Linked DNA regions of Homo sapiens. The protein of the gene in region 4 interacts with the protein of the main gene of each other region in a pairwise test. Each region holds a gene or a part of one and is shown on either strand. Other genes may lie near its edges. The genes, in order: TBX22, TASOR2, SOCS6 and TARDBP.

The links.
Region 1: the proteins of TARDBP (region 4) and TBX22 interact in binary tests that used the Homo sapiens proteins (3 or more experiments, as listed by UniProt).
Region 2: the proteins of TARDBP (region 4) and TASOR2 interact in binary tests that used the Homo sapiens proteins (3 or more experiments, as listed by UniProt).
Region 3: the proteins of TARDBP (region 4) and SOCS6 interact in binary tests that used the Homo sapiens proteins (3 or more experiments, as listed by UniProt).

The regions. Positions count from the first base shown.
Region 1 is NC_000023.11:80,010,728-80,017,752, forward strand, and holds the start of TBX22 (T-box transcription factor TBX22), read left to right. Parts: upstream 1-4,025; 5' UTR 4,026-4,160; intron 4,161-7,025. UniProt on the Homo sapiens protein: Probable transcriptional regulator involved in developmental processes. This is major determinant crucial to palatogenesis.
Region 2 is NC_000010.11:5,736,812-5,743,839, forward strand, and holds part of TASOR2 (protein TASOR 2), read left to right. Parts: intron 1-2,806; coding exon 2,807-3,686; intron 3,687-5,285; coding exon 5,286-5,715; intron 5,716-7,028.
Region 3 is NC_000018.10:70,320,018-70,327,045, forward strand, and holds part of SOCS6 (suppressor of cytokine signaling 6), read left to right. Parts: intron 1-1,585; exon of another isoform or gene 1,586-3,631; intron 3,632-4,525; 5' UTR 4,526-4,651; coding exon 4,652-6,259; 3' UTR 6,260-7,028. UniProt on the Homo sapiens protein: SOCS family proteins form part of a classical negative feedback system that regulates cytokine signal transduction.
Region 4 is NC_000001.11:11,015,626-11,022,653, forward strand, and holds part of TARDBP (TAR DNA-binding protein 43), read left to right. Parts: intron 1-1,218; coding exon 1,219-1,382; intron 1,383-3,107; coding exon 3,108-3,248; intron 3,249-4,803; coding exon 4,804-4,974; intron 4,975-6,498; coding exon 6,499-7,028. UniProt on the Homo sapiens protein: RNA-binding protein that is involved in various steps of RNA biogenesis and processing.

The DNA.
Region 1 (7,025 bases), on a different chromosome or scaffold from region 4:
AGACATGGCTTTAAAATATTAAAATAAGTTCACCAATGTGAAATACACACTTGCATCATTGTGTTAAAATTTGTAATTGAAAATTTGAATACAGGGTTGTATTTAAGATTTTCTAGAGAATAAAGCCTAAATTTCATCAAAGTATAATTATTGTAACTGGTTCAATAGATTATTCTTAGGCTAACATATATGTGTAAATTCATTAAATTAATAATTGTTTGCAAGTTAATATCCAAAGTTATCTCATTGGGCTCCCTAGGTGATGATGTGCTAATTGCCCCTGGAGCTGGCCACTTGTATTTTTTTAAATAGAGGTAACTGGCAAATCTGGACACAGTTAAGCAATTATGCTAAGTAAGAGAGAGAATGCTGTCTGAAATTCTAGCCAACAATTATCCATTAATCATGTCCAATATTTTTTTTCTATGGATGGTAAAAAATAAACCGCCTAAACTCTCCCAATTTAAAAATATGAGTGGCATTTTGTTACATTCCGGCAAGGGGAATAATATCAGAAACTTCTTGGCTTCTCACAAAATAGTGTTTTTAATAAATCGATGGCGCCCTGGATCATGGTCTTTCAAAGGTCATGCTGGTCCAGGAAGATACTGGGAAGCTGAATCACAGGTCGGATGATATAACTGGGTAATAGGGATTCAGAGGAGCACCGGAAAATGGCACTTGTGCTTTGACTTTCTAAAGTGTTTGTAAAACGGCCTGTTTGACCCAGACAGAGCTTTACTATCACAGGAAAGTGCTTTTGGAGTCCCTGATGAGTGCAGCAACCTCACCCCAAACTTTTGAGCACATCTTGGCGCCCAGAGCAGCCATTCGCGACCTAAATTACTAAGTCAAGATTCAAGCTCTACAGCAGCAAAGGTCCTGTGAGGTACGCTTGGCTGGAAGAAAGCTAGGTATCTGGCTCTGCCCAGAAGGCGCCCGCTCCGCAAACTGCTGGGAAGTTCTGGTTTGTTCCAAGAGTAGCACCAAGGAGACAAAGGAACATGCAAAATAGGATAGCTTATGCTGGCTGCAAGAAGCTGCAGTCGGGTTTTTGCCCCTGGGCCCTCTGATAATCACCGCAGGGACTTGGGGCAGGAGCAGGCTATTGGAATGATGGCAGACGGTTTAAAATTCCTTACTTGCTGATCCCTGAGCAGTGGTCTTGTAGAGTCACCACAGCACTGGAGATTGGCAGCTAGCTCCACCACTAATGTGCTCTCTTAAATCTCGATTACTTGAGGCGGATAATGGAAGAATGAAGTTACCTACCTGATTTGTTATTGTTGCTGCTGTGAGGTTTAAGAGTTAACATGTAGCAACATGAGGATTAAGAGTTAACATGTAGCAAGATAGCAAGCTTAAAAAAAGAAAGAGAAAGACAGAAAGAATGAAAGAAAAGAAAGAAAGAAGGAAGAAAGAGAAAGAAGAGAAAGAAAGAAAGAAAGAAAGAAAGAAAGAAAGAAAGAAAGAAAGAAAGAAAGAAAGAAAGAAAGAGGTAGTGGTTATTGTTGGAGGCCTCACACCTGTGAGTGGTATCGCCCCAGAACTCTGTCAAAGTCTCCTGAATCTTGAGAAGCCAAGCCCTTGTTCTCTTCTATTGGGCTGCTTCCTCGGGTACGACTTTGTAGGAGCCACCAGGAATTAAGTGCACCTGCTAAGGTCATGAGACAAGATGAGCCTCTTTGGAATGCCAAAATTTGCCCCCAGCAGACCGCACTGCTGCGTCTACCCAGGCAGTATACATCTAGCCCTTCACATGTAATCATGTTGAATTGAGTTTTTGGCAACACTTGTCCCTGGCTAACTACCTGATTCTGCGGAGCGTCAGAGCCTGGTCTCTCAAAAGCCCTCTCCCCAAAGGCCAGAAGTGAAGTTTCCCCCGGCCGTCATGGCCCTGAAACGGAGCACTGCAGAGCTCACAGAGGGGAGTGGAGATGGGAAGAAAGACACTGTTTCCTGAGTTGCCTGGATAGGATTATTTATGACGTAGCCACAAGCCTCTTCTGCTACAGCAGGCGGAGACCTTGCCACCTCAGGATTATGCTGCCACTTGCACTTAGCCTTCTTCCCGCATATACACACCCAGCGACATAAAAAGGGCACTCCTGCCCTGAGTTTGGAAATGATGTTTTGTGATGAGAGTCTAGTCCTGGTGGCTCACTCCTCACTGTCTATTGCTCACCGGCACGGAAAACTCTCTTTCATTCATAAATAATTGCCTTGCGCATTACTGTAGAAGAAAACTTAGTTAACAAATTCCTTTGTTTTGCTTGTGAAGTTACCAGATTTGGTTAGTAATTGCCTGCTTGATCAAAAGCCATTTCCTTCGTGGTTAACCAAACATCAACTTGTCTCTGTTGGGCCCGTTTTAAATATCACCAAAAGTGAACAGCCCCAATTACGACAGGAAACACATTTCCCGACATTAAACAAGGAACAGAAACAGATTTGTCGTGTTTCAAAATGCACATAGTTCTATGGATGGGCTCACATGCTGTTCTTATTTGCAACCTTCTCTCCCTAAACAAACACACAGGAGCGCGAAGACACAAACACATTCTTCTTTCAGTGGGTGTAGAAGGATTCTTGGAAAATCCTGTCTCTGAGTTATCTTCAAAAATGGCTGAAACTTATTACTGTGACACTTTTTAACTTGAAAATCAAGATAAAGTAAAGGGGAAAGTCTAAAATAAAATAAAATACAATCACTATTTTACTTTTCTTGAAAGAAGGGAAAATATTTGCCAGGAAAAATACTTTAGAGAGACTGTAGTCCTCTTCAGACATTTAAAACTTTCACATGAGATAGTAAAATAAATTTAAAAATTAAAAAATAATCCCTTGAGTTTTTGTGTGGTTGACTGTGAGCTGCAAATCTCAGGAACACCGGAATGCATTTATAAACCCATCAGAAATATCACCGTCACTATTTGGCATTCAGTATTGATAAGAAATGCGTGGTCCTCCTTGGCCTCTGGTTTTTCAGGCAGGGTTATAACAGGCATTATCTGCTTCAGGGGTTTTATTTGGGAAATCCCCTGGGTCCTTCCTAGTTATCCATGGCACTGCGGTGTGGTAGCCCAATGCGGGGTAGCTGGGGTTTCCTGCATTACTTGAAAGGTATGGTGCTCTCTGCAATGGAGAAAATAAATTTAAAAGCTATAGAATTCGTCCAATTAAACCGCACTAATCCAGAATCTGTCTTCTCTTCTATGAGAGCCTCTTCACTAGAGGATAAAATGAGCATTGATTTTTCAAGTACCTATGGATCACTTATTGCTAGTAAATTCTTCTGACTTAGGGCCTTAAGCCCTTTTCGATTCTCTCTGAGCTGCCCTGGAGAAATAAACCAACAAGTAAAAATCAAACATGTTCTATTTTGCAGCAGAAAAATGTGTCAGCCAAGACATTTCTGGGATTCGCTGTGCATTAAATTGTGTGTGTGTGTGTGTGTATATGTGTGTGTGTTGGATCTTTCCTTTAGGAGGTGTAAAGTTTTGTTTATGTGGCGCTTGCAGACTGAGAGGGGGATCCTGGCCACTGAGAGTCTCTACACTGCCTGGGAATCACTGCCTGAGGCTGAATGGGTCTCTTAGTGGATGACTCCAGAGCTGAACCCCTTGAGTGGAGCTTCTGAGCTGCTGTTGTTGATTGAGGATTGAAAAGTGTTTTCCAACTGCAAGTGCTCCTGCTGGGCATGGAAATGAGCTGACTAGACTTGTAAAGTCAATCCACTCCTGCTTCAAAGGCATTTTTTCCCAAGTGCATTAGCCTGTAGCTCAGAGCAGGATGCAGCCAGGTATGGTTGCAACCGGGAGGCTGAGGTAGGATGCAGGGTGCCTGCAGCCTTGAGGCTCTGAAAGCTGAAATCACAGACTGTCATTGTGACTTCATGGCCAACCTTGAGTAACAGCAGGTCTTCTGTGGGAGAAGTTGCTGGAGTCCAACCCCGGAAGTAGCAAGTGCCTCTCCCACAGCTGAGGGCCAGAACACCACGTTCTCTTGTGCTCTGGCTCTAGGCCACTCTTCTCTGGGCTCTTGAGAAGAGCTGCTGCAGGCATTTGCAGAGTGAATGAGCTCTGACTGAGACTTGACTTCAGAACCACTGGGCTGGCCTGGCCTCTTGACACAGCAACACACTGCTTCTTGCCTTCCAGGTAAATACCTCTGCCTTACTGACCATGTTATGGGTTTTAGTGGGACATCAGTACAGGGATTCTCCTCAGCCTCTTCCTCTCCTGTTAACTATCACTAACCAAGTCCCTAACATTAGGAAAGTCCAACTGATAACTGTCAGTTTCATCTTTCATTAACTGGGGGTTTTGTGACAGAGATCTTGCAATCACTACTTCTCGGGGGACTGGAAGTAGAATATTAGTGCTCTTTAAAATTAATGAAGGCTAGACTTGTCCAGTCTGTTAAGAGTATGCTGTAATACCCAAAGAAGCCAGCAATAGTCCCTCTCCTAGGCAGCAATGCAGCCAGAAGGCTCCCAGGCCCAGGATACTATGCATTAGTGCTCACAGATCTTGTTTAGGGAGCTAGGGAGCAAGGGGAAGGGACGGGAGTGCCTCCTGGAAGGTGAGGACTGAAGCCAACGTGGAAGTCACTGAGCTGAGTGGCAGGTGTCTAACACTGAAAAGTGGCCCTAGCCAAGGGCTCTAAGTAGTGGTACTTTCTACCGAGGCTCTTCCCCAAGGAGCTCTAGATCCACAGAGGCAGAAGGATTATTTGATCTTCTTTGCACTCATTTGATTTCAGGAGGAGGTCTGAAGTCCCAAAGCATGGGCATTGGGGTGAGAGAGGGAACATCAAAGTGTGCCAAAAAAGATTGTTTTATTTTACTTATTCCTGATTTTTCTTACCAGAGCTTGAGCTCATACACCGCATTGTAACACAAACACACAAGCACACATACCACACACACACACATGCCTTCAAACTAGAGAAGGGGACTACAGAAAGCACCTGGCCATAAAAGGCATGTCAAGGAGTTTGCTGTAGGGTGGTGATATGGTTGCTTTGTTTCAGTTCAGCAGACTTATCTCCATGAAGACCTTATTGTTTTCTGTGATTTCTCTTTTGTATTTTTTAAAATTTGTCTTTATTTCTTAATTATTAAAACCTTCCCTTTTGCCCCTCGGAGCATTGATCAGGGTTTACTAACTACAAATATTTACTTCATGAAGGAGCAGTTTTTTCTCTAGTAATATTAATGTGGGGACCCTGGGAAGGAAGACAGTGTATGAAAGAAGGCATAGATTGGCTTCAAGCACAGGCAGTATAGGTGTTTGCCTATATTTGGTGTTTTGATAGACTTAGGGAAAATCCCTCAGCCTACTACCAAATATTTTTGAGTGTCAGTACATCTGTGGTTGTTAGGTATTGAAAAGCCCTGATTAAATACAGATAATTATGAGAATATGGAAAGAAGCCTTTAGTACCTTATTCGCATGTCCTAGGAATGATGAGGTAGGGTGCCAAGTTAAGAAGAGGAAAATATATTGTAAATATCCAGGAGTAAGTAAATAGTGAAAAGATTAGCACGAGATTTGGTGGGCCCAATGGAGTTCAGGATGATTTCTTTCTTAACAGAAGGATCTGCTTCTGTTGGGCTCATGGCTGCCCAAATTAGGCAGAGCCAGATGATGACTCACTGATCTGAGAACTGAGTGGAGTCATTTGGTGAGAAAGCGTGTGTAGGGGAAGAGGGTGTAAAGCAAGCATTTTTCTAGTTTTAGGAAGATAAAATAATTCCTCATAAACAGTATTTTTTTTCAATAATTCATTGATGCAATTAACTTGGCATATCTCCGTTCAAGTGATCTGAGCCAGTGATATTTTGCTATATGTCTGAATTATTTATTTTAAAATATCAAACTGGCACCTGCAGTCATTTTTCAAATCCTAGCCCACTTTCTTTGAGGCTGATGCATATAGCATATTTGGAGGTAACTCTGACTCTCATCCTCATTTTTAAAAAGGCAGCATGATGCCAGGTGCGGTGGCTCAAGCCTGTAATCCCAGCACTTTGGGAGGCTGAGGCAGGCAGATCACCTGAGGTCAGGAGTTCAAGACCAGCCTGGCCAACATGGTGAAACCCCGTCTCTACTAAAAATACAAAAATTAGTTGGGCGTGGTTGAACACGCCTGTAATCCCAGCTACTCAGGAGGCTGAGGCAGGAGAATCACCTGAAGCTGGGGGGCAGAGGTTGCAGTGAGCTGAGATTGTGCCATTGCACTCCAGCCTGGGCAACAGAGGGAGATTCTGTCTCAAAAAAAAAAAAAAAAAAAAGCATGAAAAAAAACAAAGAAAAGGAAAGAGGAAAGATGGGGGTGGAGTAGGTAAAAGAAATGTATAAGGCATAATACCCAAGTTAAAATGACCTAACCTAAAAATTCACATAGCACAAACTCTACCCATGAAAAAATATTATGTCCAGCAGTCCTGATTGAGCCTTCAGTTAATATATGACTGTGCAAGTGCCAATGGAGCACCAGAGAGGTAACATAAAAAGGAATAGGTTTGACACTAGTTTGGTGTTGTTTTTGTGTGTGTGTGTGTGTGTGTGTGTGTGTGTGTGTGTTTTCTTTAATTTTGTTCATTAGGTTTTGTAGAGACAGGATCTTGCTATGTTGCCCAGGATGATCTCGAACTCCTGGACTCAAGCTATCCTTTTCCCTCAGCCTCCCAAAGCACTGAGATTACAAGTGTGAGCCCATATACCTGGCCTTAAGCTCAATGTTTTAATGGAGAGTGTTTGAGGACTAAAAGAGACAGGATGCATTTATAATTATTTATTATTTTCACTGCTCCAGGAAGTCAAAGACAGCTGAAAGGTGACCATACAATGCCTCTTCTGGCAATTACTAGAATCACCATAGGGTAGAATTACATTTGGACTTTCAAAAAGGTTTTTTCTTTTTCGTTTATTCATTTATCCTGCTCAAAATTAGCCACGTACAAAATTGTCCCCATAATTCTGGTGGCAAATTTCCTAGGAAATTTTTAAAAATTCTAT
Region 2 (7,028 bases), on a different chromosome or scaffold from region 4:
TGTTTTGTTTAACGGAGAGACTTCATTCTCTCCTATCTTTCTATGAGTTTTCTGTCTGGTTTTCCTGATTCTACTTTCTCCCTCATCTATTACTAGATGTTACTATCTCACAGAGAGTGAGAATTCAGAGAAAGAAATTGGATTGTTGTTTTGTTTTGTTTTGTTTTGAGATAGAATCTCACTCTGTCACCAGGCTGGAGTGCAGTAGCACGATCTCGGCTCACTGCAACCTCTGCCTCCCAGGTTCAAGCAGTTTTCCTGCCTCAGTCTCCCGAGTAGCTAGGACTACAGGTGCATGCCACCACGCCTGGCTAATTTTTGTATTTTTAGTAGAGATGGGGTTTAACCATTTTGGCCAGGATAGTCTCAACTTCTTGACCTCTTGACCTCATGCTCTGCCTGCCTCGGCCTCCCAAAGTGCTGGGATTACAGGTGTGAGCCACCACGCCCAGCCAGGTTTGTTTTTTTTAGTTTTTTTGTTTTTTTTTTCAACTTAAGCATACCCTGAGATTCTTTAAGTTTTTTCAGATTGTTTTATGACTGAAGATTTTTTTAAAAGCTCATCATGTCATTCAAAAACCCATATGCTGCAGTTTTGGCTTCCATACCAGATTTGAGCTCTTCTGCTTGTCCCTCTCGGGAGTTTATGGTGTGGCTGTACCTCCCCTCTCTGCGTTGTGCCTCTGCTGTTGCCACCGTGCTCCTTCCCCTGCGGCCCTCTGTGCCTCCCCCAGGCAACCTCTGCCCTTCAGGGGCCTGCAGCTAGATTTATCCCCACAGGGAGGCGTTTTCTCATGTTGTGACTGTAACTAATCTCTCACTTCTTTGGGATATTTGAGAACATTCTATAATTTAATTCATACTGTTTTCAATTCATCTGACATGTCTTGGTCCAATCTTTCCAATTTGTAAACATGAGAATAGGTAACATCTTGTGTTCCTAGCAGTGTCATTTGCATTCTTTGTACTGAATTGGCTTCAGATGTTTATTGACAAATTGATTAATGCGAGGAGGTATATAATTGCATACTGGCAGAAAAGTGAGCCCAGAAAATTTAAAGTTTCAAAATGTGTGTTCAAATACAGGCTGATTTGTATTGCAAATGTCTGTAGGTATTGTGCAGCCACATTCCAAGTTAACATTTTTGAATGACTACATTTAAATCTCTGAATTTTTTTCTTAAGCACCTATGTTAATCATTTTACTTCTTATACTTAAAATATCAACGTTTAAGAAGGCAGATGAAACATAGCCACATTGACCTCAGTTTGCAAATTACTGATTTAAATTAGAATCAAATGATAATTTTGAAGTCAGACAGTCCTTTTGTTAATGAAACATGATTTTCTGTCCTTTTTATTCACTGAACTTTTTTTTAATGTAGTTCCTTTGGCATTGTCTTATGTATGTCTTAAATAGAAATTATGGGTGGTGTTTTTTTAATTGGGAACCTGTAACACGTTAATAACTGGGTGATTTATGTGAGACTATAATATGTTAAACTACCATTTTTCTTTATTTTAATACAGTATCTTTTATATTAGGCCTTACTGGTAAGTAATATTTTGTGTAAGGGATAAGTAGATGGAGGCCATAATATTAACAAAGAATGAAATTAGCATCAGATCACAAAATTAATTTTATGTTTCCAGTATACCTGTGGGACTAACAAGACAATTATCTGCTTTGGGTCCTTTTCATCCACCTGTCCCCTTTGAGTTTGCTGTTTTAAATAAAAACTGGGCAGTCGTTGATCAGTTTAACCCTTTCCCCATGTATGTGCATGCCCTTGTCGTTCTAATTGATGACATCATAGGCTGGAGCTGTCTTCTCTTTAAATGTGTTACTCATTGGCCTTGGCTGGCAGGTTGTTAATTCATTTTGGACCTGCTACTATGATAAAGAGGAACATAGTTGGCTTTTCTGGTCATCTGTCTACCTGCAGCAGGGAATCATTGCCTAGCAGAGTTGTGAAGTTTATCCTTCATAATAACAGCATTTAGGAAGGAATAATGAATACGTTGAAAATACCAAGGGAAACCACTGGCAAATGTAAATGTTCTGATTAAGGGCATATGGATAGATTTGATTATCTGTAAAAGGGAACATTGTCAGTAGATTTGCTCTTTCTTGGATAATGTAAAAGGTCAATGTTTTTGGTAATGAAAGTAAAATTTTAAAAGGTAATGGAATTAATTGATGATTCTGAATACTCTTAGGACTTTTCTAATTTTTTATTTCTATCACATCATGTAATTAAAGATCAATATAGTTAAAATCATTTGAACTTAGGTAGTTTCTCTAATAAATCGCTTGTTCAGGGAAATGGTTCCTGAGAAAGTATGTTAGCAAACTCATACACACTTGAAACTTCTACATTCCTGTCCTTATTAGATTGTAAGCTCCCAAGGGCAGGACTCTCATCTTTTTTGGGTTTTTTTGTTTGTACATTTTTTGAGCTGAGCTGTATGTCTTCTGTGTAGATCAGTTCATATGTTTTTGAAGGATAATTTCTTTCTAAATTAATGTACACATTCCTTAAGACTTGTCCCTCTGGTTTAACACATTATAATCTGAGGGTTGAAAGAGACCTTAATCCAATAGAAAATTTTAATATGCAATATGTATAACATAAGTTTTATCTGAGGGTTGGAAGAGACCTTAATCTAATAGAAAATTTTAATATGCAATATATGTTACATAAGTTTTTCTCAGACATGTTGAATTAACCATCATAGTAATATGGCAGAGAGTTAATTCTATGACAAGCAAACATCTCTCTTTTTTTTTTCTTTTATACTGAAGTCAAAGGAGAAACTGCTTCAAAGCTTCAATCAGAAATTTCAAGAGGTTGTCAAGAAGATGGGATTAGCATAAATAGTGTTCAACCAGAAAATACCACAGCGGCTCACAATGATCTTCCTGAAAACTCCATCGTCAACTATGACTCCCAGGCCCTAAATATGTTAGCCGATCTAGCATTAAGCTCTGCTACTTCTTCCACACCAGTATCTGAGGCTAGAAATCTTCACTGTTCCTCTGAATTGCCACAAAATGATGTTTTGCTCTCTAAAGAAAATTCTTTGCGAGGTACATCTGACCATGAATATCATAGAGGAGTTAAAACTCAAAAAGGTGAATTACTACCTAACCCATCTTCTGATAGGAAGAGTAATTCTGGATCAGACTTAACAGTTAGCCAAGATGAAGAAAGCTTGGTTCCTTGTAGTCAGGCCCCTGCTAAAGCCCAGTCAGCACTTACTGAGGAAATGCTAGAATCTTCAGATGCAAGCCAAAGCTCTTCTGTTTCTGTGGAACATTCATATGCCCTGCTCCTTACAGAACATTCAAAGAAACATCTACAGGAGAGAGAGATACTAAGCCCTCTGTTTCCCAGGAATGGGACAAAAAGCCCTGAAGCAGCAACCCCAGTGGGGAAAGTCATGCCATTTCGGCATCAGCCCGGCCTTTTGCTTCAGCAAAAGCCTCCTGACGACCCCGTGGTGAAGCCCAAGGATCGACCACCGTCTGCCCGTGTGAAAAAATCTTCTTGCTCTCGTATAGTGCTTAGCTGTGATGACTCCGTTAAGATCACTTTCAAATGTGAAACAGAATATGCATTCAGTTTAGACAGCAAATATACCAACAACCCACTGGAGAAAACTGTAGTAAGAGCATTACATGGGTGAGTATGAGTGAAACTTAGTGAAAATGGATGAAACTTTTCTGTTGAGATGAATGTAGTGAGATGGGGAAACTTATGCCAAACTCTGGAGAAGGAGAAAGAAGTGTTGTGTTTAAAACCAGTAATTTGATAATAACATCAAGCAAACATGTTTCCTGGCAATTAAGAGTAACAGGCTGGTTTTCCCCCTGTGCTCATGTGGAGAAGTTTTTAAAGATAATTTTAGCCTAATGAATAGCTTTCCATTTTGCAATGCTCCCTCGTAAGCCCTTGTGGCTTTTGAATTTCAATTTTTAGATGAGATCTTAATGTAAAATAGTGTGAGATTTAGAAATAATGCTTTACAGACTGAATTCCAGAAGAAACATTTTAAAAATCACTGTAGCTTGGTAAATTGGTCAGATTGATAGGAGTAAGCAGTTTCACATAAGATTGTTCTATAGATCTCCCTTAAGAAGGAATCAAGTCAGTAATAACAGAGTGGTGAACAGCACAGGCTTTGGAGTGTAGACTAACCTAGATTTGAACCCGGGTTCTTTCCCTTTCTTACCTCCTGTGATCCTGGGCAAGTTTCTTGCTTCTGGACAGTGCTTCTTAATTGTGTGTGCTGCTCATCTAGAGATTTCACTGAACTGCAGATTTTGATGCATTCTCCTTGGGAGAGGCCTGACATTCTGCATTTCTAACAAATTTTCAGGTGATATCAATGGTGGATGACAGTCTGTGGCCAACATTTAATTATGTAGCTGTGTCCTGAGGTTACATATATTGAGATGCACAGTGACTGGCCAGTAGTAGTAATAAATGGTAACCATCACTGTTAGCAAGCATTCATTAGCTATATGAATTGACATTCAGCTCCCTATTAATGAACTGTTTCACATCTGACTATATGGACTCTACAGCTGTCAGGCTTTCTTCTATACACCTGTTCATATATACTCATAAGGGTCATTTCCTTAGAACTTCCTGTTTAGCTATTGCCCAACTCTGCAGCCCCCCTGACTTATGGTACTCCAGCGATCTGCCATCCTTTTGCCTGCCAGGTGGCCAGAAATGTTTTCTATTTCCCCTTACTGTTTCAGGATATTTTGCAGAACTGTAGTCTGAAAATAGTATAGTTCTGTTGAATTGCCCAGAGAGATATTTTATCTTCAGACTTTCTCAATTATTAGAAGAGAGACACAAAAATGGAAAATAAATGAATCAGCCAGACTTAGCAAAAGCATGGTGATGAGGATTTGGGTATTGGCGAAACCATTTCTATAATAAGTATTCTGTGTCCAGAGTGAATTTGTATGGTGTAAAAGACACGTGCTACCCATGTTCAGATCATGGTTCTGCCATACAGGTTTTGTGATTTGAAAGAAGGCAATTACATGTTCTGATTCTCAGTTCCCGTCTCTGTAAAATGAGTGGGTTAGATGGATAATTATTTGTTAAGTCAACTACATATTTACTCATTCATGTTTCATATCTGTAAATTTTAAAAATAAAAACAAAAACTAAGGAATATTGGAGGCACTTGCTTATGATAAGGTAATCAACTAAAATAACCATTTTCAATGATTTTCATGTGTTCTTTCTGTAAACTCTTAGGCCCTGGAATACTGATTTGCCTGATAATGTGGAAGAAGTGAAGCTTTTACTTCATATGTGGGTAGCTCTGTTTTACAGCAATCAGAACAAAATCATACGATCTTCCCGAAAGGTTGTAGAACACAGCAACCCAGCAAAATATGTGTCTATAAATAGCACGTTAGAATCTTGTGAGCTCCGTGAAATTGAGGAGTCCCTTGGTTTGGAAAAATGTTCTGCAGACTCTCTGTTGGAGACTAACGAAATTTCCAGGGCTCATGCTGCTGAAGTATCCTTCCGTGATCCTAACTGCTTGCTTCCTTTCATTAAAACACCACTTACCCAAGGCTTGGAACTCTGTGTACAAAATGAACAGAAAAAAACTTTTGCAAGAGAGTGTGATCCAGACACCCAAGAAGACCAGAATTTCATCTGTTCTTACAATAATGAGGTATGTAAAGCTGAATACCGTTAAATGTTGGCATTATTTTTGAAGAAAAAAATGTTTATATGTAAAATCACATTCAAAACAAGGCATTTTTAAATTTTAGGACAGTGAATTCTCAAGGTATGTAAAGAACTATTACACCAAAAACCTAGTTTTCATGAAGTGTCCTTGAATTGTCTGCAGGTAGAGCTTACCTGCCATCCCGATTGAAAAAAACCAGAGTAGAAAAATGTCACAGGGTCCACATGATCTGGGAGCCCAGCATAATTTGGGGCAAATTGCTTCTTTGCCTAATTTTTAAAAGAGGTGACTTAATACCTATCAAGTCTTATGTAGAATATTGTTTAAGGATCAAATATAGCAATAATAAATCTTAGATATACTTTGATAAACCTTAAAGTAAACTAAAATTAATTGTATTAAAATTATTTTTGAAGACAGATGCTGGAATAGTAAAATGCCAGACCTGTGAAAGAAGACCCATTGCAAATAACTATTTGTAAATATGGAAAATATACTTTGTTTTGTTCCTTGTTCTCAACTGACATTCAACCAGGCCAGATAATCCAAATTTTACCTGGAGCAAATCTAAAAGTTGTTAACAAAATTCTAAGCAAATGAATTGACAAAATTACCTACCTTTTAAAGTTTTCCGCCCAAATTTATTCTAGAATAATATTGCTTGGGTTTGGGCAGCATCTCTGATTCCTGTCTTAAGAAAGAGTAGACAGTGTTCCTATACCCGGGGTCACCGGGGACTTGGAGGTCCTTGGGTGAGCCTCATAGAACCCGTGAATATCTTCAAGTGATTGTCATCATCATGAGAATTAAAGATTTCTGGGTCACTGTGTGCCAGAAAGTAAGAGTTCTAAGCCCTTCACTCATATTAACTCAGTTCATTCTCAAATAAGTTAAAGACTATTAATCTCCCCATTACATAGATGACGAGACTAAAGCATAGAGAAGTAAAGAAATTGCCTAAAGTCACATAGAAAATTGTCAAGCCAAGATTCCAGTCTAGAAAACCTAAATGTTAACTATGTATGTGCTTTTTTTTTCCCCTAAAGATGGGGTTCAGCAGTTCCATCCTATTCTCAAAGAATTACATAAAATCCAGTTAAGAATCACCACCTTAGAATAAGAAAATATAGTCTAGTCAGGGAGATTTAAATTAATACATATATACATGCTAGTTTCTTATAAAATACCATTTGTCGTGGTAATATGTAATTAACTATCATCAGTACTAATTTTAGCAATGATTTTGGCAAGCCTGACTGTTCAAATCAGTGATTCCTAACAATCTCCTTAGTATG
Region 3 (7,028 bases), on a different chromosome or scaffold from region 4:
AGTCTTGCTTGTTGCCCAGGCTGGAGTGCAGTGGTGTGATCTCAGCTCACTGCAGTCTCTGCTTCCTGGGCTCAAGTGATTCTCCTTCAGCCTCCAGAGTAGCTGGGATTATAGGTGTGAGCCATAATGCCTGGCTAATGTTGATATTTTTAGTAGAGACGGGGTTTCACCATGTTGGCCAGGCTGGTCTCGAACTCCTGGCCTCAAGTGTTCCACCCACCTCAGCTTCCCAGAGTGCTGGGATTATAGGCATGACCAATGGGTTTGAATGTTATAGAGTAAAAAAATTTTGTGTTATGGTTTTAGATTTTACAGGGCAATTTATCATTAAGAAACTATTATTCATTGAGTTTTGATATAGTATCAAAGAAAAATATCCATAGTTATATGAAAAGGTTATTAAATAAAATATATTGTTCCTTTTTCCAACTATGTATCTGGAGGAGGCTGAATTTTCTTCTTACAGGTAGTCCCCTATGCACAGTTTCAATTACCACAGTCGATAGTCATCTGAAGACAGCTAAGTGCAGTACAGTAAGATATTTTGCGAGAGAGAGAGTCCACATTCTCATAGCTTTTATTACAATATTTTGCTATAATTGTTTAATTTTATTATTAGTTATAGTTATTAATCTCTTACTGTACCTAACTTAAAAATTAAACTTTATCATAGGTATGTGTGTATAGGAAAAAAGCAAAGTATACTTGATATAGGGTTCTGTACTATATGTGGTTTCAGGAATCCACAGGGGATCCTGGGATGTATCCCTTGCAGATAAGAGAGGGCTACTGTACTGTAACAGATTCAGTGCAGAAGTAGATATGAGAGTCTAGCTGTCTTCCTTTAGTCAGGCAGAAGAGATTTACAGTAATGTCATGTGGTACCACTTTCACTGATTTTTATTATCATTCATGAAAATGTTATTTATGTTAACATGTAATGAGTATATTGTCATTTTAAAATAAATATAAAATTAGGCTGGGCATAGTGGCTCATACCTGTAATCCCAGCACTTTGGGAAGCTGAGGTAGGAGGATTGCTTGAGGCCAGGAGTTCAAGACCAGCCCGGGCAACATAGACCTCATCTCTACAAAAAGTAGACAAAATTAGCCAGGCGTGGTGGTGCGTGCCTATAGTACCAACTGCTCAGGAGGCTGAGGTGGGAGGATCTCTTGAACCCAGGAGGTTGAGGCTGCAGTGAGCCGAGATCATACCACTGCACTCTAGCCTGGCCAACACAGCGAGACTCTGATTCTGTGTCTTCAATAAATAAATAAATAACAAATTTTCTCAGTTTTTTTTTTTTTTTTTTTTTTTTTTGACAGAGTTTTCGCTCTTGTTGCCCAGGCTGGAGTGCAGTGGCGCAATCTTGGCTCACTGCAACCTCTGCCTCCCAGTCTCAAGCAATTCTTCTGCCTCAGCCTCCTGAGTAGCTGGGATTACAGGCACACGCCACCATGCCTGGCTATTTTTTTTTTTTTTTTTTTGTATTTTTAGTAGAGATGGGGTTTCACCACGTTGGCCAGGCTGGTCTCCAACTCCTGACCTCAGGTGATCCGCCTCGGCCTCCCAAAGTGCTGGGATTACAGAAGTGAGCCATCATGCCCCGCCTCTCGGTTTTATTTTCTAGTAGGGTACATTTCAAGAGATGCAACCCACATAAACAATGCTTCTTCCTGTCTTCCAATAATTTTTAAGAGAATAAAGGGGTTCTGAGACCAGAATGTTTGAGAACCACTGATGTAAGCAGTAGAATGACAGGTAGGACAGGTTGGCATAGGGGAAGAATGTGAGCTTTGCAAATAAACAGCCAGGTTCAGATTCTGGATCTGCTGTTGCTAGTAGCAAATTGTTTAACTTTGTTGGGCAAATTCCAGTCTCTCTGATAACCAGTTTCCTCATTTTATAAAATGGGGATAATAAAGCTGTTTTGTTTATTGAAGGTTAAGTAGTTGTTTGATCTTTTTAATTTTTTCATTATGTGTTATGATGACTGACAGACATGACTACCTCAAGTCATTTAAGAAAAGGTTGAAATTATTTGAAGAAGTTATCCTTTACCCATATGGATAAAGTTTATGTCTAAAGCTTTTTCCCTTGAAACTTTATATACATTTTCAAGTATATGTATAAACTTAAAATTTTACAATTAGAAAAGCAGTAAAACTAATTCAGAACATTTACTTAGGCACGAGACAGATGGTAATCCTATAAAAAGATGGCATATATTTTTGGATGTGCAAACAGAAAAACAGATACTCTTAAAAATTTTAGAGTAATCTTTGCCTAGAATATGAAGGGAAGAGATAAAAGACCATATGGCCTAATAGAACTTTTATAGTTTGTAATGTCTAGGATTGAATTTTGTTTCTTTAATATTAGTATTGATTAATAGCTTACTAATATGGATTGGTAGTTGAAAAAGGAATAATTTTCAAGCAGGTAATTGCCAAGTACTTTTACCGTGGTTGCTAGTCTCTCGTGTTTTGGGGTATGGGTGTGATAGTGGGAAGCACAACTATTTGAATCTCACATTTAGTAGGGTTAATCAGTTACTGATTCTGGCAGTTATAATAGTTCATTATGCTTGGGTAGAAGACATGCTACTAAGACACTGAGTTCACCTAATATACAACTTCATTTATTATTTAAAAGTAACTGGTGCTTCAAATATTTTAAGTTTTTTATTTTTTACAACTTATTCAGAAACATAGTACATGACAGTAGACTTTTAAAAATTGCTTCTTCCTTTTGGGGACATGATAGTACTGATCCCCTGATAGGTTGTCTAATCTGAGTGGTTTTTAGTAAGAATGATTCCATCTGCACACCACCCGAATCCTATCTGTAACTAAAAGGGGACAATTGTCAGGTTCTCTCTCTCCTGTCAGTTCCCACCTTGTGTACCATTATATTACTGAAGGGTTGATACTACAGTTTATCTGTTCATACATCTGTCTCTCCTACTGGATTAGGTGACCATCAGTTATTCATCAATCTGTGTATTGCCACACAGGGCTGAGCCAAGCTGACTCAGCAGAGGCCGAGTAGGGGCTTAGTAAAGGCAGAGTGAATTCATGAATGGGATCAAAGCTAGAGCCATAGTCTTGTGCCAAGAAACTGAGTGGCGCTAAACTGCTGATTTGGGAGGTCAGAATCTTGTTCTGGGCTTTATTAGCATTTCGCTCAAGTCAAGCGAATCACCTTGTCAAGTCATATGCAGAGAAGGCAGAACATGACGTTGGAGGAAAGAAAACATTCTACACAGTTTAAACACAGGGCCTTTGTAAAGTAGTGTTAGGATCACTTAACGTGGTTTATGGAACCAAGATTTTTTGCTGTGAAATGACTTTCAGAAAGTCTTTACAGAATTGAAATCCTGTCATTTCAGTGTAGAACAATGTACAAAAAAAGTTTAGAAAATATATTTCTGGATATAGAAGTAAAAATTTGCCATGGGAAATTGCAAAAAAAGAAGAGTAAGCAATAATAATTCTGGAAATATGTTTCATAATCTTCCAAATAGATCAAAACTAGACACATGGGTTTTTATGGGTGTACTTCAGAGATGAAGCTTTTCAACCTGCGCGCATTGAGCTTCTTCCTCCTCTGTGCATTGGGAACTTGAAGGTAAATGATTCTTGTTCTCAAGGAATTCTCGAGTATAGAGGAACATCTCTAGATAGTTTATTACAGATAATGAAATTCTTTTTGTTTATTTTGACACAAGCTTAAGTATTTAAAATATGCATCAGTTGTTGAGTTGACTAGGCTTGTTATTGCAGTTCTATGGAACGCCTTTACTGTCGTGCCAGGACACAGGCTGGGACATGGCAGGCAGCGGAGGAGCAGTCGGAGTCAGTGCTGAAGGAGTGCACAGGTCTAGCTAGAGTCCAGCTGGGAAGGATGTGGACACTGGCCCACACGTTAGAGTTTATACCAAAAAGCAAGGTGCCAAAAGAACAAAAGGTAGATGCAGGCTTGTTCTTTATAAACATCATCGGGCGGGGCATGGTAGCTCAGCCTGTAATCCCAGCACTTTGGGAGGCCGAGGCGGGCGGATCATAAGGTCAAGAGATCGAGACCATCCTGGCTAACACGATGAAACCCCGTCTCTATTAAAATACAAAAAACTTAGCTGAGTGTGGTGGTGGGCGTCTGTAGTCCCAGCTACTTGGGAGGCTGAGGCAGGAGAATGGCGTGAACCCAGGAGGCAGAGCTTGCAGTGAGCCGAGATCACGCCACTGCACTCCAGCCTGGGCGAAAGAGTGAGACTCATCTCAAAATAATAATAATAATAATAATAAAGTAAACATCATCAAATACTTGCCAAATGCTCATTGTGTAGTAGGCAGTGATCTGCTCTGCTGGGTGCAATAGAAAGAAAGCCCGGTCCTAACAGAGCTGACATTAAGAAAAGACTGGGGTGTTCTCGTTCAGAAGTTAAAGGATTAAAACTGACTAAAACAAAACTTTTGTGGAAATATTTTTTAATATGACTCTTTTTATATTTTTATTTTTTAGAAAATGGCTCCAAAGGTTAAATGAAGCAGGAAAAATACATAGATGCAGCCTTGCAGCCTCTCCAGATGTTTGGGGATAATATTCCAGATAGAAATATTGATCCCTTGGATTAGGTAACTAGTCATAATGAAGAAAATTAGTCTTAAAACCTTACGGAAATCTTTTAACTTGAATAAAAGTAAAGAAGAAACTGATTTCATGGTAGTACAACAACCATCGCTAGCCAGTGACTTTGGAAAAGATGATTCCTTATTTGGTAGCTGCTATGGTAAAGATATGGCCAGCTGCGATATCAACGGTGAAGATGAAAAAGGCGGAAAAAACAGATCAAAAAGCGAGAGCCTGATGGGTACGCTAAAAAGGCGGCTTTCTGCAAAACAGAAGTCAAAAGGCAAGGCGGGCACACCCTCTGGGAGCTCTGCCGACGAGGACACCTTCTCCTCCTCCTCAGCACCCATAGTCTTTAAAGACGTGAGAGCTCAGAGGCCGATAAGGTCCACGTCGCTCCGCAGCCATCACTACAGTCCCGCGCCGTGGCCTCTGCGGCCCACAAACTCCGAGGAGACCTGCATCAAGATGGAGGTGAGAGTCAAGGCCTTGGTTCACTCTTCCAGCCCGAGTCCAGCCCTGAATGGCGTCCGGAAGGATTTCCACGACCTCCAGTCTGAGACCACGTGCCAGGAGCAAGCCAATTCACTGAAGAGCTCGGCTTCTCATAATGGAGACCTGCATCTTCACCTGGATGAACATGTGCCTGTCGTTATTGGACTTATGCCTCAGGACTACATTCAGTATACTGTGCCTTTAGATGAGGGGATGTATCCTTTGGAAGGATCACGGAGCTATTGTCTGGACAGCTCTTCTCCCATGGAAGTCTCTGCGGTTCCTCCTCAAGTGGGAGGGCGCGCTTTCCCCGAGGATGAGAGTCAGGTAGACCAGGACCTAGTTGTCGCCCCAGAGATCTTCGTGGATCAGTCCGTGAATGGCTTGTTGATTGGCACCACGGGAGTCATGTTGCAGAGCCCGAGAGCGGGTCACGATGATGTCCCTCCACTCTCACCATTGCTACCTCCAATGCAGAATAATCAAATCCAAAGGAACTTCAGTGGACTCACTGGCACAGAAGCCCACGTGGCTGAAAGTATGCGCTGTCATTTGAATTTTGATCCGAACTCTGCTCCTGGGGTTGCAAGAGTTTATGACTCAGTGCAAAGTAGTGGTCCCATGGTTGTGACAAGCCTTACAGAGGAGCTGAAAAAACTTGCAAAGCAAGGATGGTACTGGGGACCAATCACACGTTGGGAGGCAGAAGGGAAGCTAGCAAACGTGCCAGATGGTTCTTTTCTTGTTCGGGACAGTTCTGACGACCGTTACCTTTTAAGCTTGAGCTTTCGCTCCCATGGTAAAACACTTCACACTAGAATTGAGCACTCAAATGGTAGGTTTAGCTTTTATGAACAGCCAGATGTGGAAGGACATACGTCCATAGTTGATCTAATTGAGCATTCAATCAGGGACTCTGAAAATGGAGCTTTTTGTTATTCAAGGTCTCGGCTGCCTGGATCTGCAACTTACCCCGTCAGACTGACCAACCCAGTGTCCCGGTTCATGCAGGTGCGCTCGTTGCAGTACCTGTGTCGTTTTGTTATACGTCAGTATACCAGAATAGACTTAATTCAGAAACTGCCTTTGCCAAACAAAATGAAGGATTATTTACAGGAGAAGCACTACTGAAAGATTGAGAACCCTGCATCTTGCACTTTGGGAATAAGAACAAGAGATTGAAATACAGTTTACAAACTTTCATTGCCATCAAAATCTTTTGCTGCCATAACTATTTCAGTTTTATGTGTAAAAGAGTCATCAGTTTGTTTAGGGGTGGGGAAGTGTCAGCAAGGTGTCTTGGGTTTATTTTGGTTCTTTAAAAAAGGGAAGTCTTGAGGTTTTAGAGGTGTGAATTATGTTTCATCAATGTGCAGAATAATCACAATGTGAATTATCAAATTCTCCTCAATGCCCCCCCCGCCCAGTCCTTTGCTGCTATCCACTGTGATTTTTATGCATTAAAAGCACATTTCATGTGTATTCAACCCTAAGTAAAGTTGAATGAAACTTAACAGAATGGAAATTGCTATGTCTTTTTAAATGGTCCATTTTCAAAAGACAGTGTTGAATAAACATACCTGTGTGATAAAACACAGAATTTACATATACACTGAAGATGAGTTTTTAATCTCTTACTTTAAAAAGATTTATTTAGAATCGTGAATTGACATAATCTTGGGTAATGGAACGGAGATCTGCAACATATCTTTTAACAACACTTTTTTCTAAATTATTTCTAAGGTTGTGCTAATTCTTTTGGTTGTGAAAAGTTGAATTTTTCTGTTGCCTTCGTTTTCATCTTCTAGTTTGTCTATTTTAATAAATGGCCTTACATTAAAAAATTGTAAAGAAATGTATACCACCAATTTAGAAATTGTTGCCTTTTCTGTAATTAAAC
Region 4 (7,028 bases):
CGCCACTGCACTCCAGCCTAGGTGACAGAATGAGACTCCGTCTCAAAAAAAAAAAATTATCTCCCCTTCTCTTCTAAATAACCTAAGGTTGAGGTTATTTGGGGGGTTTTTTTGTTGTTGTTTGTTTGTTTGTTTTTTGAGACAGTCTCACTCTGTCGCCCAGGCTGGAGTGCAGTGGCACGATCTTGGCTCACTGCAACCTCCGCCTCCCAGGTTCAAGCAATTCTCTGCCTCAGCCTCATGAGTAGCTGGGATTACAGGTGCCTGCCACCACGCCTGGCTAATTTTTGTATTTTTATTTATTTATTTTTATTTGTTTATTTATTTTTTAGACGAAGTCTCGCCCTTGTCGCCCAGGCTGGAGTGCAGTGGCACGATCTTGGCTCACTGCAACCTCCGCCTCTTGGGTTCAAGCGATTCTCCTGCCTCAGCCTCCCAAGTAGCTGGGATTACAGGCACCTGCCACCACGCCCGGCTAATTTTTTCTTTATTTTTAGTATAGACGGCGTTTCACCATCTTGGCCAGGCTGGTCTTGAACTCCTGACCTTGTGATCCACCTGCCTCAGACTCCCAAAGTGCTGGGATTACAAGTGTGAGCCACCGCGCCCAGCCAGTTATGTTTTTTTAAGTAAGCCAAACTTTTGGTTTCTTTTTCTTTTTTGAAATTAGAGATGGAGGCTCTCGCTCTGTTGCCCAGGCATATTGCAGTGGCTATTCATAGGCACACTGCAGCCTCAAACTCCTGGACTCAAGTCGTCCTTCCTCCTCAGCCTCCTGAGTTGCTGGAACTTACAGGCATACACACCACTGTACCTGGTTTTCTGTTTTATTACAAAAGTTGTGTATTTGTTGTTGAATGTTTAGGAAAGATAAAAGTTAAATCTTCATCAGGATATACAAGTTGCTGATATTTAAAGTCAAAGTGAAGTAGAATTATTTTTGTTTTGATAAACCTTTTGAGAGGGAGAGATTGTAATCCGGAAATGCTACAAAAAACAAACTTGGAAATCACTGAATTTGCACCAGAAAAGCACCTCAGACACTAAACTTAAGCCTTTATTCTGTCCTCTAGAGCAAACATCACTTCTTGCCAAGTTTTCAGTGTCTTATTCTTCTTAGAGTCTTCTTTTTGCTTCTCATTTCTAGATGTAGGAGGTAGTGTTTTTAAAGAAGTGCTAAGTGAAGATTTCTAAAAGGTTTCTGCTCGTTTTATTTAGATAACAAAAGAAAAATGGATGAGACAGATGCTTCATCAGCAGTGAAAGTGAAAAGAGCAGTCCAGAAAACATCCGATTTAATAGTGTTGGGTCTCCCATGGAAAACAACCGAACAGGACCTGAAAGAGTATTTTAGTACCTTTGGAGAAGTTCTTATGGTGCAGGTAAACTTCGATTGCATCAAACAGTTTTTCTTTACCAGTGAATGAGTATCTAGCATTTATTTATTGGTATAAATAGAGATGGGGTATCACTATGTTCCCTAGGTTCTGGCGTCAAACTCCTGGGCCCATACTGTCCTCCTGCCTCGACCCCAATGTGCTGAGCCACCATGCCCAGCCACAATCTTGTTACCTTTCTTTTTTTTTTTTTTTTTTGGAGACCAAGTCTCACTTTGCTGCCCAGGCTGGAGTGCAGTGGCACGATCTTGGCTCACTGCAACCTCCACCTCCCGGGTTTAAGTGATTTCTCCTGTCTCGGCCTCCTGTATCTGGGATTACAGGTGCCCGCCATCATGCCTGGCTAATTTTGTATTTTTAGTAGAGACAGGGTTTCACCCGTTGGCCAGGCTGTTCTTGAACTCCTGACCTCAAGTGATCCACCTGCCTTGGCCTCCCAAAGTGCTGGGATTACAGGTGTGAGCCACCGCGCCCGGCCACATTCTTGTTATTTTAATGGCACTGTCCTTTCTGTTACACAGATGATACTTCCAATATTTGTTATATTTATACATATATGTTGTACCCTATGTTATTGCCTTTGATATTGTAAAATCCTACTGTTGCATGAAGGCTTAAGGGAAGTAGGTGACAATAGCTTTTCTTTATATATTAAACTAATGGGAGGTTTTTCCATTTCATTTAAAATTTGTAAACATTAAATTTAGTTTATCTTTGAATTCATTCTAAGACATTCTGTTAAAATCCTGTTGTGGTGGCTCATGCCTGTAATCCCAGCATTTTGGGAGGCTGAGGTGGGAGGGTTGCTTGAGGCCAGGAGTTCAAGGCCACCTTGGCGAACATATCCAGACTCAGTTTCTCTTTTTTCTTTTTTTTTTGAGACGGAGTCTTGCTCTGTCACCCAGGCTGGAGTGCAGTGGCATGATCTCGGCTCACTGCAAGCTCCGCTTCCCGGGTTCATGCCATTCTCCTGCCTCAGCCTCCCAAGTAGCTGGGACTACAGGTGCCTGCCACCACGCCTGGCTAATTTTTTGTATTTTTAGTAGAGATGGGGTTTCACCGTGTTAGGCAGGATGGTCTCGATCTCCTGACCTCATGATCTGCCCGCCTCCGCCTCCCAAAGTGCTGGGATTACAGGCGTGAGCTACTGTGCCTGGCCTCTCTTTTTTTCTTTTCTTTTTGGAGACAGGGTCTGGCTCTGTCAGTCAGGCTCTAGAGTGCAGTGGTGCAATGTAGGCTCGCTGCAACCTCCACCTCCTGGGTTCAAGCTATTCTTGTGCCTCAGCCTCCCAAGTAGCTGGGACTACAGGTGCATGCCACTACACCTGGCTAATCTTTGTATTTTTTGTAGAGACAGGGTTTTGCTGTGTTGCCCAGGCTGGTCCTGAACTCCTGTGCTCAAGCGATCCACCCTCCTCAGCATCCCAAAGCACTGGGAATACAGGTGTGAGCCACCGCGCCTGGCCCCATCTCTCTTTTTTAAAAAACTCAAAAACATTTCTGTTGTATAAGTGAGTTTTGCTCTGTTGTTAACACAGTATGGATTCAATATTAACCTCCTTGTTTTTACTGTTAAGACTAACTTGGTTTAAGTTTTAAGCCACTGCATCCAGTTGAAACCATTCAAATTGTTTTCTAAGGAACTATGATTTGGGAATGGAGTGTGTGAGTATGTGCACTTTTAGAGTAAACTTGTATCATCCTTTCTAGGTCAAGAAAGATCTTAAGACTGGTCATTCAAAGGGGTTTGGCTTTGTTCGTTTTACGGAATATGAAACACAAGTGAAAGTAATGTCACAGCGACATATGATAGATGGACGATGGTGTGACTGCAAACTTCCTAATTCTAAGGTACTTGCGTCTGTGCTTTGGGAATTTTTGCCAACAAACTTCCTTAGAGGATTGTAAGATAAAATGTTAAACACACTTAGAAAAGATAGCGGCAGGGTGTGTTCATGAAATCCTTTTGTCTTGTTGAAGTCTTTGGCCCTTAGTGCATGCTGAATATTTTATGCTTGTTTGAAATATTTAGTTTATTACTTCTCCAAACTAAACCTTTGTTCATTTTGTTCTTCCTTTTCGCTATGGATGGAAAAGAGAAAAGGTTATTTGTCAAGTTAATAGTTTCTTACATAGTTATATGTTAAAACATAAAGAGAATCAGAATACATACATTAATTGTTATAAAGACCTAACTTTTTCCAAGCAAACAAATAACATTGGCTTATTTGGAACATCATCATCTTTGCCAAGAGATTGCTTATTTATTAATTTTCTCAAATCCAAACACAGTCATGTATCACATGGCAAAGTTGATCAGTCAGCAGCAGACCTCGTGTACAGCAGTGGTCCCATAGGATTATAACACTGTTTTTACTGTACCCTTTCTATGTTTAGATACACAAATACTTACCATCATGTTATAGTCGCCTACAGTGTTGAGTACAGTAACTTGAAAGTTTGTGGCCTGGGAGCAATAGGCTATACCATCTAGCCTAGATGTGGGGTAGGCTATGCTATCTGGGTTTATATGATGTTTGCACAACGACTTTTTTTTTTTGAGAGAGAGAGTCTCACTCTGTCATCCGGGCTGGAGTGCAGTGGTGCAATCTCAGCTCACTGCAAGCTCTGCCTCCCGGGTTCACGTCGTTCTCCTGCCTCAGCCTGCCGAGTAGCTGGGACTACAGGTGCCCACCAACACGCCTGGCTAATTTTTTGTATTTTTAGTAGAGATGGGGTTTCACCGTGTTAGCCAGGATGGTCTTGATCTCCTGACTTCATGATCCGCCCATCTCGGGCTCCCAAAGTGCTGGGATTACAGGTGTGAGCCACCGCACCTGGCCCTTTTTTTTTTTTTTTGAGATGGAGTTTCACTCTTATTGCTCAGGCTGGAGTGCAATGGTGCAATCTTGGCTCACTGCAACCTCCTCTTCCGGGTTCAAGTGATTCTCCTACCTCAGCCTCCCAAGATGCTGGGATTACAGGTGCCTGCCACCACACCCGGCTGATTTTTGTATTAGTAGAGGTGGGGTTTCACCATGTTGACCAGGCTGGTTTGAACTCCTGACCTCAAGTGATCCACCCGCCTCGGCCTCTCAAAGTGCTGGGATTACAGGTGTCAGCCACCACACCTGGCCACGATGATGAAATTGTGTAATGGCTCATGATGTATTTATATCCATCATTATGTGATGCATGACTGTGTACTTTTGTAACTTAAAACGTTACTCTTCACTGAAGCCTTACAAGAAAAAGAAATGCTGATGGAAAAAATTAAGGGTACGTCTACTTTTTAATGGTTCACTGCTATCCAAGGCGAATGATTTTGTTATATCCCTTACCTTAATGTTTTTTTCATTGTTCATAACATATTTCTGAGTTTTTTTCTTCCTTTTGATTTGATCAGCAAAGCCAAGATGAGCCTTTGAGAAGCAGAAAAGTGTTTGTGGGGCGCTGTACAGAGGACATGACTGAGGATGAGCTGCGGGAGTTCTTCTCTCAGTACGGGGATGTGATGGATGTCTTCATCCCCAAGCCATTCAGGGCCTTTGCCTTTGTTACATTTGCAGATGATCAGGTATTTTTCTCCTTAACGATATGTCCCGGCCGGGCGTGGTGGCTCATGCTTACAATCCCAGCACTTTGGAGGCCGAGGCGGGTGGATCACGAGGTCAGGAGATCAAGACCATCCTGGCCAACATGGTGAAACCCCGTCTCTATTAAAATACAAAAAAAAAAAAAAATAGCTCGGTGTGGTGGTGCACGCCTGTGGTCCCAGCTACTCTGGAGCCTGAGGCAGGGGAATCGCTTGAACCCAGGAGGCGGAGGTGGCAGTGAACTGAGATCACACCACTGCATTCCAGCCCAGTGACAGAGTGAGACTCTGTCTCAAAAAAAAAAATATGTCCCAGGTAATTAGGTAATTTCTCTTGAACATTGCCCATGCAGCTAATTGCTATTCTTAGCTAAGTTTTCTGACCTTGTAAGACGTAGGGTGTATGGGCCTAGATGTTTGTGATACCTGTATCTGATATCACAAATACAACATTTTAAGAAATCTAAAAGTAAATATGCCTTTAGATAATTTTCAGTATGTGGCATTTGGGAATGTTATATACTTTTTTTTTTTTTTTGAGACAGAGTTTTGCTCTTGTTGCCCGGGCTGGAGTGTGATGGCGCGATCTTGGCTCGCTGCATCCTCCACCTCATGGGTTCAAGCGATTGTCTTGGCTCAGCCTCCTGAGTAGCTGGGATTACAGGTGCCTGCCACCACGCCTGGCTGATTTTTTTGTGCTTTTAGTAGAGACAGGGTTTCACCATGTTGGCCAGGCTGGTCTCGAACTCCTGACCTCAGGTGATCTGCCCATCTCAGCCTCCCAAAGTGCTGGGATTACAGGCATGAGCCACCACGCCTGGCCAGTTTTTTGTATCTTTAGTAGATAACGGGGTTTCACTGTTTTGATCTGGCTGGTCTTGAACTCCTGACCTCAGGTGATCCACCCCCCTCAGCCTCCCAAAGTGCTGGGATTACAGGCGTGAGCCACTGCTCCTGCTCCCGGCCCATTTTTTAAATTATTATTTTGAGACAGGGTCTCACTCTGTTGCCCAGGCTGGTGGAACACAGTGGTGTAATCATAGCTCACTACACCCTAGAACTCCTGGGCTCAGCCTCCAGGGGGAGGATCCTCCAGCTTCAGCCTCCCAAGTAGCTAGGACAGATGCATGCCACTACGCCCAGCTAATGTGGCTTTTTTGTGGTTTTTTTTGATAGAGGTGGGGTCTCCCTGTGTTGTCTAGGCTGCCAGGCTAGTCTTGAACTATTGGCCTCACACAGTCCTCCCACCTTGGCCTCCCAAAGCGCTAGGATTACAGGCATGAGCCACCATGCCCAGCCTATGTCTTTTGAAAATCGACTGAAATATCACTGCTGCTGTTAATAAAACTAAAAGCTGTATTGGGGGTTTAAATGAAATGAGTGTTCATTGCTTATTTTTCCTCTGGCTTTAGATAAATTAATGCTTGTAATCTAAGTTTTGTTGCTACTTTAAATATATGAATCAGTGGTTTAATCTTCTTTGTTTACATCCCTTATTTCTTATAGATTGCGCAGTCTCTTTGTGGAGAGGACTTGATCATTAAAGGAATCAGCGTTCATATATCCAATGCCGAACCTAAGCACAATAGCAATAGACAGTTAGAAAGAAGTGGAAGATTTGGTGGTAATCCAGGTGGCTTTGGGAATCAGGGTGGATTTGGTAATAGCAGAGGGGGTGGAGCTGGTTTGGGAAACAATCAAGGTAGTAATATGGGTGGTGGGATGAACTTTGGTGCGTTCAGCATTAATCCAGCCATGATGGCTGCCGCCCAGGCAGCACTACAGAGCAGTTGGGGTATGATGGGCATGTTAGCCAGCCAGCAGAACCAGTCAGGCCCATCGGGTAATAACCAAAACCAAGGCAACATGCAGAGGGAGCCAAACCAGGCCTTCGGTTCTGGAAATAACTCTTATAGTGGCTCTAATTCTGGTGCAGCAATTGGTTGGGGATCAGCATCCAATGCAGGGTCGGGCAGTGGTTTTAATGGAGGCTTTGGCTCAAGCATGGATTCTAAGTCTTCTGGCTGGGGAATGTA